Linked DNA regions of Homo sapiens. The protein of the gene in region 2 purifies or fractionates together with the protein of the main gene of each other region. This does not show direct contact. Each region holds a gene or a part of one and is shown on either strand. Other genes may lie near its edges.

What was found. Proteins that work in one complex are often made in the same cells at the same time.
Region 1: the proteins of COLGALT2 (region 2) and COL6A2 purify together in Homo sapiens (affinity purification with mass spectrometry; 2 studies listed by BioGRID and IntAct, with this or other methods). This does not show direct contact.

What each region holds. Positions count from the first base shown.
Region 1 is NC_000021.9:46,129,112-46,133,348, forward strand, and holds the end of COL6A2 (collagen alpha-2(VI) chain isoform 2C2 precursor), read left to right. Parts: exon of another isoform or gene 1-84; coding exon of another isoform or gene 85-380; exon of another isoform or gene 381-690; intron 691-2,842; coding exon 2,843-3,441; 3' UTR 3,442-3,737; downstream 3,738-4,237. UniProt on the Homo sapiens protein: Collagen VI acts as a cell-binding protein.
Region 2 is NC_000001.11:183,947,229-183,950,728, reverse strand, and holds part of COLGALT2 (procollagen galactosyltransferase 2), read left to right. Parts: intron 1-3,500. UniProt on the Homo sapiens protein: Beta-galactosyltransferase that transfers beta-galactose to hydroxylysine residues of collagen.

The sequences.
Region 1 (4,237 bases), on a different chromosome or scaffold from region 2:
CCTCGCTGAGCGGCTGCCCGAGGAGGAGCTCTAGGCCGACGCCCACCGCAGGCCTTACAGTCTTCTCTGGACGCTCCCTTGCAGATGCACCGTGGCCTGGCGGCGAGCCCCCGGTCACCTTCCTCCGCACGGAAGAGGGGCCGGACGCCACCTTCCCCAGGACCATTCCCCTGATCCAACAGTTGCTAAACGCCACGGAGCTCACGCAGGACCCGGCCGCCTACTCCCAGCTGGTGGCCGTGCTGGTCTACACCGCCGAGCGGGCCAAGTTCGCCACCGGGGTAGAGCGGCAGGACTGGATGGAGCTGTTCATTGACACCTTTAAGCTGGTGCACAGGGACATCGTGGGGGACCCCGAGACCGCGCTGGCCCTCTGCTAAAGCCCGGGCACCCGCCCAGCCGGGCTGGGCCCTCCCTGCCACACTAGCTTCCCAGGGCTGCCCCCGACAGGCTGGCTCTCAGTGGAGGCCAGAGATCTGGAATCGGGGTCAGCGGGGCTACAGTCCTTCCAGGGGCTCTGGGGCAGCTCCCAGCCTCTTCCCATGCTGGTGGCCACCGTGTCCCTTGCTGCGGCTGCATCTTCCAGTCTCTCCTCCGTCTTCCTGTGGCCGCTCTCTTTATAAGAACCCTGGTCATTGAATTTAAGGCCCACCCCAAGTCCAGAATGACCTCGCAAGACCCTTAACTCACTCCCGTCTGCAGAGTCCTTCTTTGCTGCATCAGGTCACCCTCACAGGCTCCAGGGTTTGGGTGTGGAAGTCTTTGGAGGCCCTTACTTAGCGGCCCAGCTGGGCTGCCGTGCGTCTGGGATGGGGCTGAGGGAGGGTGCTGCCCAGGTGCTGGAGGATGTTCCAGCACCAGGTTCCAGCGGAGCCTCGGAAACAGGCCCCAGAGGCTGGTGAGCCTCGCTGGGTGTGGGCACTAATCCCGTGCATGGTGACTCGTGGGCGCTCACGGCCCACCTGGTGGCAGGTGAAGGCTTCCGGTTGGGCAGCAGATAGTCCTGGGGGAAGCTGGCAGTCCTGGCACCATGACGTATCTGGGCTGGTGTCATGCACAGTAGGGCGAATGGCCACAGCTGCCTGCCAGCAGCCCTGATCCCGGGGTGTCTGCACCCTTCCAGCCCAACCTCTGGGTCTCCAAAAGCACAGTCGGGGGAGCATCCACCAGGCACAACCTCTGCGGTCCTCAGAGGACTGAGCAGAGAATCCCAGGGTCCACAATGTTGGGGAGCGGCAGGGATCACCATCCAAAGGGAGCGGCCCCCACGGCGAGCTGACCCCGACGTTCTGACTGCAGGAGCCCTCATCCAGGCTGGGCTCCTGCCGGGCACGGCTGTGACCATTTCTCAGGGCCAGGTTCTCGTCCCCACACCCACTGCACAGGGCAGGCCAGGCTGGTCTTCCCACTGTGGGGATGAAGGATCCTCCACAGGAGGAGGAGAGCAGAGTCCACAGACATCCCAACAGCCTCAGCCTCCCTGTGCCTGGCCGGCCCCCACAGCTTCCCCGTCTCCTCCAGGCCCCACAGACACTGATGAATGGACAGAGACCCCCAAAACCAGCTGCCCCTTGCATGTCTGTCTCCATATGTTTGGTGACAGCAGTGAAAATGTTATTAGTTTTGAGGGGGTTTGGGAAGCCCAGCGGTACCTGAGGAGTTTCTGGACATTTAAGCCGGTTCCTAGGTGTGGCCTTAACAGGGAGGCTGCCCTTCCTTTCACTGAATGAGCTGCGTCACTCATAAGCTCACTGAGGGAACCCCATCTGCCAGCTCGTGCGTGCTCAGACGGCGTCCATGTCTCAAGCGTTCTGTGAAGGCTGCGGTGCAGCGTGAGGTCACCCTGCTGTGTTCAGAGCTTTGCTCACTGCCTGCGGGGCTGGACCGTTGCACCTCCAGGGCCCCCAGAAACCGAGTTTCGGGTCAGGGTCCTCTGTGTGCATTCCTGGGGGTCCATGTACCAGCTGTGACGACGTCCAGGGGTTGGGCTGAGAAGCAGACACCCTTGGGGAAACTGGCTCTGTCCCTCCCCTCCCCCATCCCAGGAGCTGAGGTCTTGGTGAGGCCACAGGGCCAGGTCCACGCAAGGACTGTCCGTGTCCTGTCCTGTGGTCTCTGGCCCCACGTGACACCCACACGTGTGGTAGGCAGCCTGGCCTGGGTTGTGGCTATGGCCAGGCCCCCAAGCTGTCCCCGATGCCCAGGGCTGGTGACCACCCAGGCAGGTGGGGGCCCCACTTGGTAACAGAGTCATAGGGCAGAACCCACCTGGGCTGCCACAGAAGGTCTGGCTGCCCCTGTGCCCACTGCTCCCCACCATGGCCAATCAGAAGAGTCAGGGGCTCCTGGTCTTTCCGGGAGGGACGTGGCCCAGCCAGCTCTAGGTGTTCTGAGCAGCTCTGGGACCCAGCGATTGAGGGGTCAGGCTGGGGGTGTCAGAGCCAGGGTCCTCCTTAAGTACCTCCCACACTACACAGACAGTGGCCCTTTTGTGGGCAGCAAATTCTTGAGCCATGAAAGGATGCTTTGGGCCCCTTCCCTCCCAGGAGGGCAGCCTGTGCAGGGATGGTGCTCAGCAGGTGGACAGGGCCTGGGGCCTGTGTCAGGGTCTCAGGCCTGGGAGCACCAGCAGAGGAGATGGCGGCTCCCAGCAGTGCCGCCTGAAAGTGTCTTGGGCTAAGGACCCACACCCAGGGCTGCCCTGCAGAAACGCCCCCGCAGAGCCCAGTGGTCTGTGAGGTTGCAGGCAGGGTGCGAATGGAAGGGCACAGGTGCGGGGCTGGCACCTGCCCGGTCCTGCCCACCTCCCCTCCGCCCAGCCCGCACCTGCGTCTCCCCACAGAGCTGTCCGTGGCACAGTGCACGCAGCGGCCCGTGGACATCGTCTTCCTGCTGGACGGCTCCGAGCGGCTGGGTGAGCAGAACTTCCACAAGGCCCGGCGCTTCGTGGAGCAGGTGGCGCGGCGGCTGACGCTGGCCCGGAGGGACGACGACCCTCTCAACGCACGCGTGGCGCTGCTGCAGTTTGGTGGCCCCGGCGAGCAGCAGGTGGCCTTCCCGCTGAGCCACAACCTCACGGCCATCCACGAGGCGCTGGAGACCACACAATACCTGAACTCCTTCTCGCACGTGGGCGCAGGCGTGGTGCACGCCATCAATGCCATCGTGCGCAGCCCGCGTGGCGGGGCCCGGAGGCACGCAGAGCTGTCCTTCGTGTTCCTCACGGACGGCGTCACGGGCAACGACAGTCTGCACGAGTCGGCGCACTCCATGCGCAAGCAGAACGTGGTACCCACCGTGCTGGCCTTGGGCAGCGACGTGGACATGGACGTGCTCACCACGCTCAGCCTGGGTGACCGCGCCGCCGTGTTCCACGAGAAGGACTATGACAGCCTGGCGCAACCCGGCTTCTTCGACCGCTTCATCCGCTGGATCTGCTAGCGCCGCCGCCCGGGCCCCGCAGTCGAGGGTCGTGAGCCCACCCCGTCCATGGTGCTAAGCGGGCCCGGGTCCCACACGGCCAGCACCGCTGCTCACTCGGACGACGCCCTGGGCCTGCACCTCTCCAGCTCCTCCCACGGGGTCCCCGTAGCCCCGGCCCCCGCCCAGCCCCAGGTCTCCCCAGGCCCTCCGCAGGCTGCCCGGCCTCCCTCCCCCTGCAGCCATCCCAAGGCTCCTGACCTACCTGGCCCCTGAGCTCTGGAGCAAGCCCTGACCCAATAAAGGCTTTGAACCCATTGCGTGCCTGCTTGCGAGCTTCTGTGCGCAGGAGAGACCTCAAAGGTGTCTTGTGGCCAGGAGGGAAACACTGCAGCTGTCGCTCGCCCACCAGGGTCAATGGCTCCCCCGGGCCCAGCCCTGACCTCCTAGGACATCAACTGCAGGTGCTGGCTGACCCCGCCTGTGCAGACCCCACAGCCTTGATCAGCAAACTCTCCCTCCAGCCCCAGCCAGGCCCAAAGTGCTCTAAGAAGTGTCACCATGGCTGAGGGTCTTCTGTGGGTGGACGCATGATTAACACTAGACGGGGAGACAGCAGGTGCTGAGCCTGTTGTGTTCTGTGTGGAGATCTCAGTGAGTTTTTGCTGTTCAGACCCCAGGGTCCTTCAGGCTCAGCTCAGGAGCCCCACAGTGAACCAGAGGCTCCACAGGCAGGTGCTGACCTGACAGGAGTGGGCTTGGTGGCCATCACAGGGCACCACAGACACAGCTTGAACAACTACCAGTATCGGCCACA
Region 2 (3,500 bases):
GGTTTTCAGCCTTCTGTAGTGTAACAGAAGGAATGTGTTCAGAATTGTGTTCAGAGCTGAATTAGAGCATAAAGTGCTGAAACTTGGTCAATCTGAAGAAAATAGATGGAAAATGCATAAAGGTGTACATTTCCTGTTGCATGAGATGCCTGCCACAATCTGCCTGGACCGATCATAGTGGCCACTTTTCCTGGAAATATGGCAGGAAAGTAACACAGGGAACCTAGTTAGATCCCTTCTTTTTTTTTTTTTTTATTTTGTTCAGCTTTGCCCTTTTATTTGACACCCTAAACTATTTCAAGGCATAGATTTTTATAAAATGTGCCTTTCCATGTTATATGTTGGTTTAGAATATCAGTAGCTTTGTTTTCTATTTGCATAACTCCAACTAAGGAGTATGGCTAGCAGCTGTTGAAGTTTTTATGACTCCCTTAGAGAATCTCATCAGTGTTTCCCAAAGTGTGACCTGGACACTCACATCAGAGTCCCCACGGATGGTTAAGGGGACAGCTCCCTCAGTCCCATCTCAGACCTGCTGAATTATGCTCTCTGAGGCTGGACCCAGGATCTGCATTTAAGAAGCCTCAAGGTGATTCTTAGACAGGATTGCCCCATAAAATACTGGATAGCCAGTTAAATTTGTCCCAAACATCACATGGGGCTTGGTTATACTAAAAAATTATCCATTATTTATCTGAAACTTAAATTTGACTGAGTGTTTTGTGTTTTTCACTTCCTAAATCTGTCAGCCCTATTCTTGGGTGCAGTAGAGTTTAGGAACCACTGCTTCAAATACCTCCAAGAACACCAGTCCCATTCATAGACCACATGGACCAGGGAAACTAGTTGAGTAGTGAGAGTTCTTTATATATCCTGGATGCAAGTCCTTTATCAGATATGTAATTGTCAAATATTTTCTTTAACTTTATGCATTATTGATTGTCACAATTTCATGATGGTATACATTGAAGCAAAAGAGTTTTTCATTTTGATGAAATCCAATTTATTTTTTGTTCTTGTTGCTAGTAATTTTAGTGTCATACCTAAGAATCCATTGTCAATTTCAAAGCCATGAAGATTTACTTCATGAAATTTTCTTCTGAGAGTTCTACAGTTTTATCTATTACATTTAGGTATTTGATCTATGTTGAGTAAATTTTTGTATATGGCATGAGGCAGGGATCCATATTCATTCTTTTGCACATGGTTATCCATTTGTCCCTTCACCATTTGTTAAAAAGACTTTCGTTTCCCTCGTAGAATTGTCTTGGCACCATTGTAAAAAGCCAGTTGCCCATAAATGTAAGGATTTATTTCTGAACTCTCTATTTTATTTGATTGATCTATATGTCTATCCTTATGCCAGTACTATACCGTCTTGATGACTGTAGCTTTGTATTTAAGAAGTATGAGTCCTTCAATTTTGTTATTCTTTTTCGAGTTTGTCTCAGCTATTCTGGGTCCCTTACTTTTTCCATATGAATTTTAGAATTAGCTTGTCAAGTTCCACAAATAAAGAAAACGGCAGCTGGGATTTTGATAGGAATTGCATTGAGTCTGTAGATCAACTGGGAGAATATTTCCGTGTTAACAATATGAAGTCTTCTGATTCGTAATCATGGAATGTCTTTTTATTATTTAGATCTTCTTTAGTTCTTTGAATGATGTTTTGTCATTTTCAGTATACAAGTCTTGCATTTATTTTGTTAAATATACTCCTAAGTATTTTACTCTTTTGATGCTATGGTACATGGAACTATTTCCTTAGTTCTATTTTCAGATTGTTCATTGCTAAATGAATAAGAATACAATTGATTTTTGTATATTGATCCTGTATCCTGCAACCTTGCTGAACCCTTTTTATCAGTTCTAATAGTACTTTTTCCTTTGTGTGTGTATATTCCTTAGGATCTTCTACATACAAGACCATGTCACATGCAAGTAGAGATAGTGTTATATGTTCCTTTCAAACCTGGATACCATTTATTTCTTCTTCATGTCCAACTACCCTTGCTGGATCATCAAGTACAATGTTGAATAGAACTGTTGAGTGCAGTTTCTTGATTTGTTCCTGATCTTAGAGGGAAAGCATTCAGTCCGTCACTGCTAAGTATGATGTTAATTGTGGGTTTTTCACAGATGGCCTTTACTGGGTTGAGGAAGGTCCCTTTTAGTCCTATTTTGTTGAGTATTTTTATCATAAAAGGGTATTGGATTTTGTCAAATGGTTTGTCCGTGTCTATTAAGATGAACATGTGACTTTTGCCTGTTAATATGGTACGTTACTTTGATTGGTTTTCACATGTTAAACCAAACTTGCAACCCTGGGATAATCCTGGGACCCATTTGGTCATGCTGTATAATTCCTTTTATAAATTGCTGGATTCTCTTGCTAGTATTTGCTTGAAGATTTCCACATCTATATTAATAAGTGATATTGGTCTGCAGTTTTCTTATAATGTTTTTGGTTTTGTATCAAAATAATATTGGCTTCATAAAATCAGCTGGGATGTGTTCCCTCCTCCTCTTTTTTTTTGGAAGTTTGTGAAAGATTCGTGTTAACAATTTTTAAACATTTGGCAGAAACCCCTAGTGAAGCCATCTGGTTCTAGGCTTTTCTTTATGGAAATTTTTTTTATTACTAATTAAACTTCTTTTCTTGTTATTTATTTACTTTCTATTTCTTCTTGAGTCAATTTTGGTAGTTTGTACCTTCCTATCAATTTGTCCATTTCATCTAGGTTATCTAATTTGTTGCCATACAATTGTTCATAGTATTATCATATAATCTTTTTTACTTTCATAAGGTCAGTAGGAGTGACCCCTCTTTCATTCTTGACTTTAATAGTTTGAGTTTACTTTTTTTTAATTCATCAGTTTAGGCAAATAATTGTCAATTTTGTTGATCTTTTCAGAGGACTGACTTTTGGTTTTGTTGATTTTTCTCTATTGTTTTTCTATTCTCTAGTTCATTTATTTGTACTGTAACCTTTATTATTTTCTTCCTCCTGTTTGCTTTGGGTTTAATTTTCTCTTTATCTAGTTTCTTAAGATGGATGGGAGGATTATTATTTGAGATATTCTATTTTACTAGAGACATTTGCAGCTGTAACTATATCTCCAAGTACTATGTTAAGTGTATCGCATAAGTTTTGGTATGCTGTGTTTTCATTCATCTCAAAATATTTTCTAATTTCCCTTGCAATTTCTTCTTTGACCCATTGGTTAGGAGTGTATTGTTTAATTCCACATTTCTGAATTTCCCAAGTTTCCTTTGGTTATTGATTTTTAATTTCAAACCATTGAGGTTGGAGAACATACCTTGTGTGATTTCAATCCTTTTAAGTATACTGACACTTAATTTATGACCTATATGGTCTTTATGGTCTAAAAAATGGTATTTCTTAGAGAATGTTCTATGCACACTTGAAAGTGTGTATTTGGCTATTGTTGGGTGGAATGTTCTATAGATGTCTGCTAGGTCTGATTATTTTAAGATA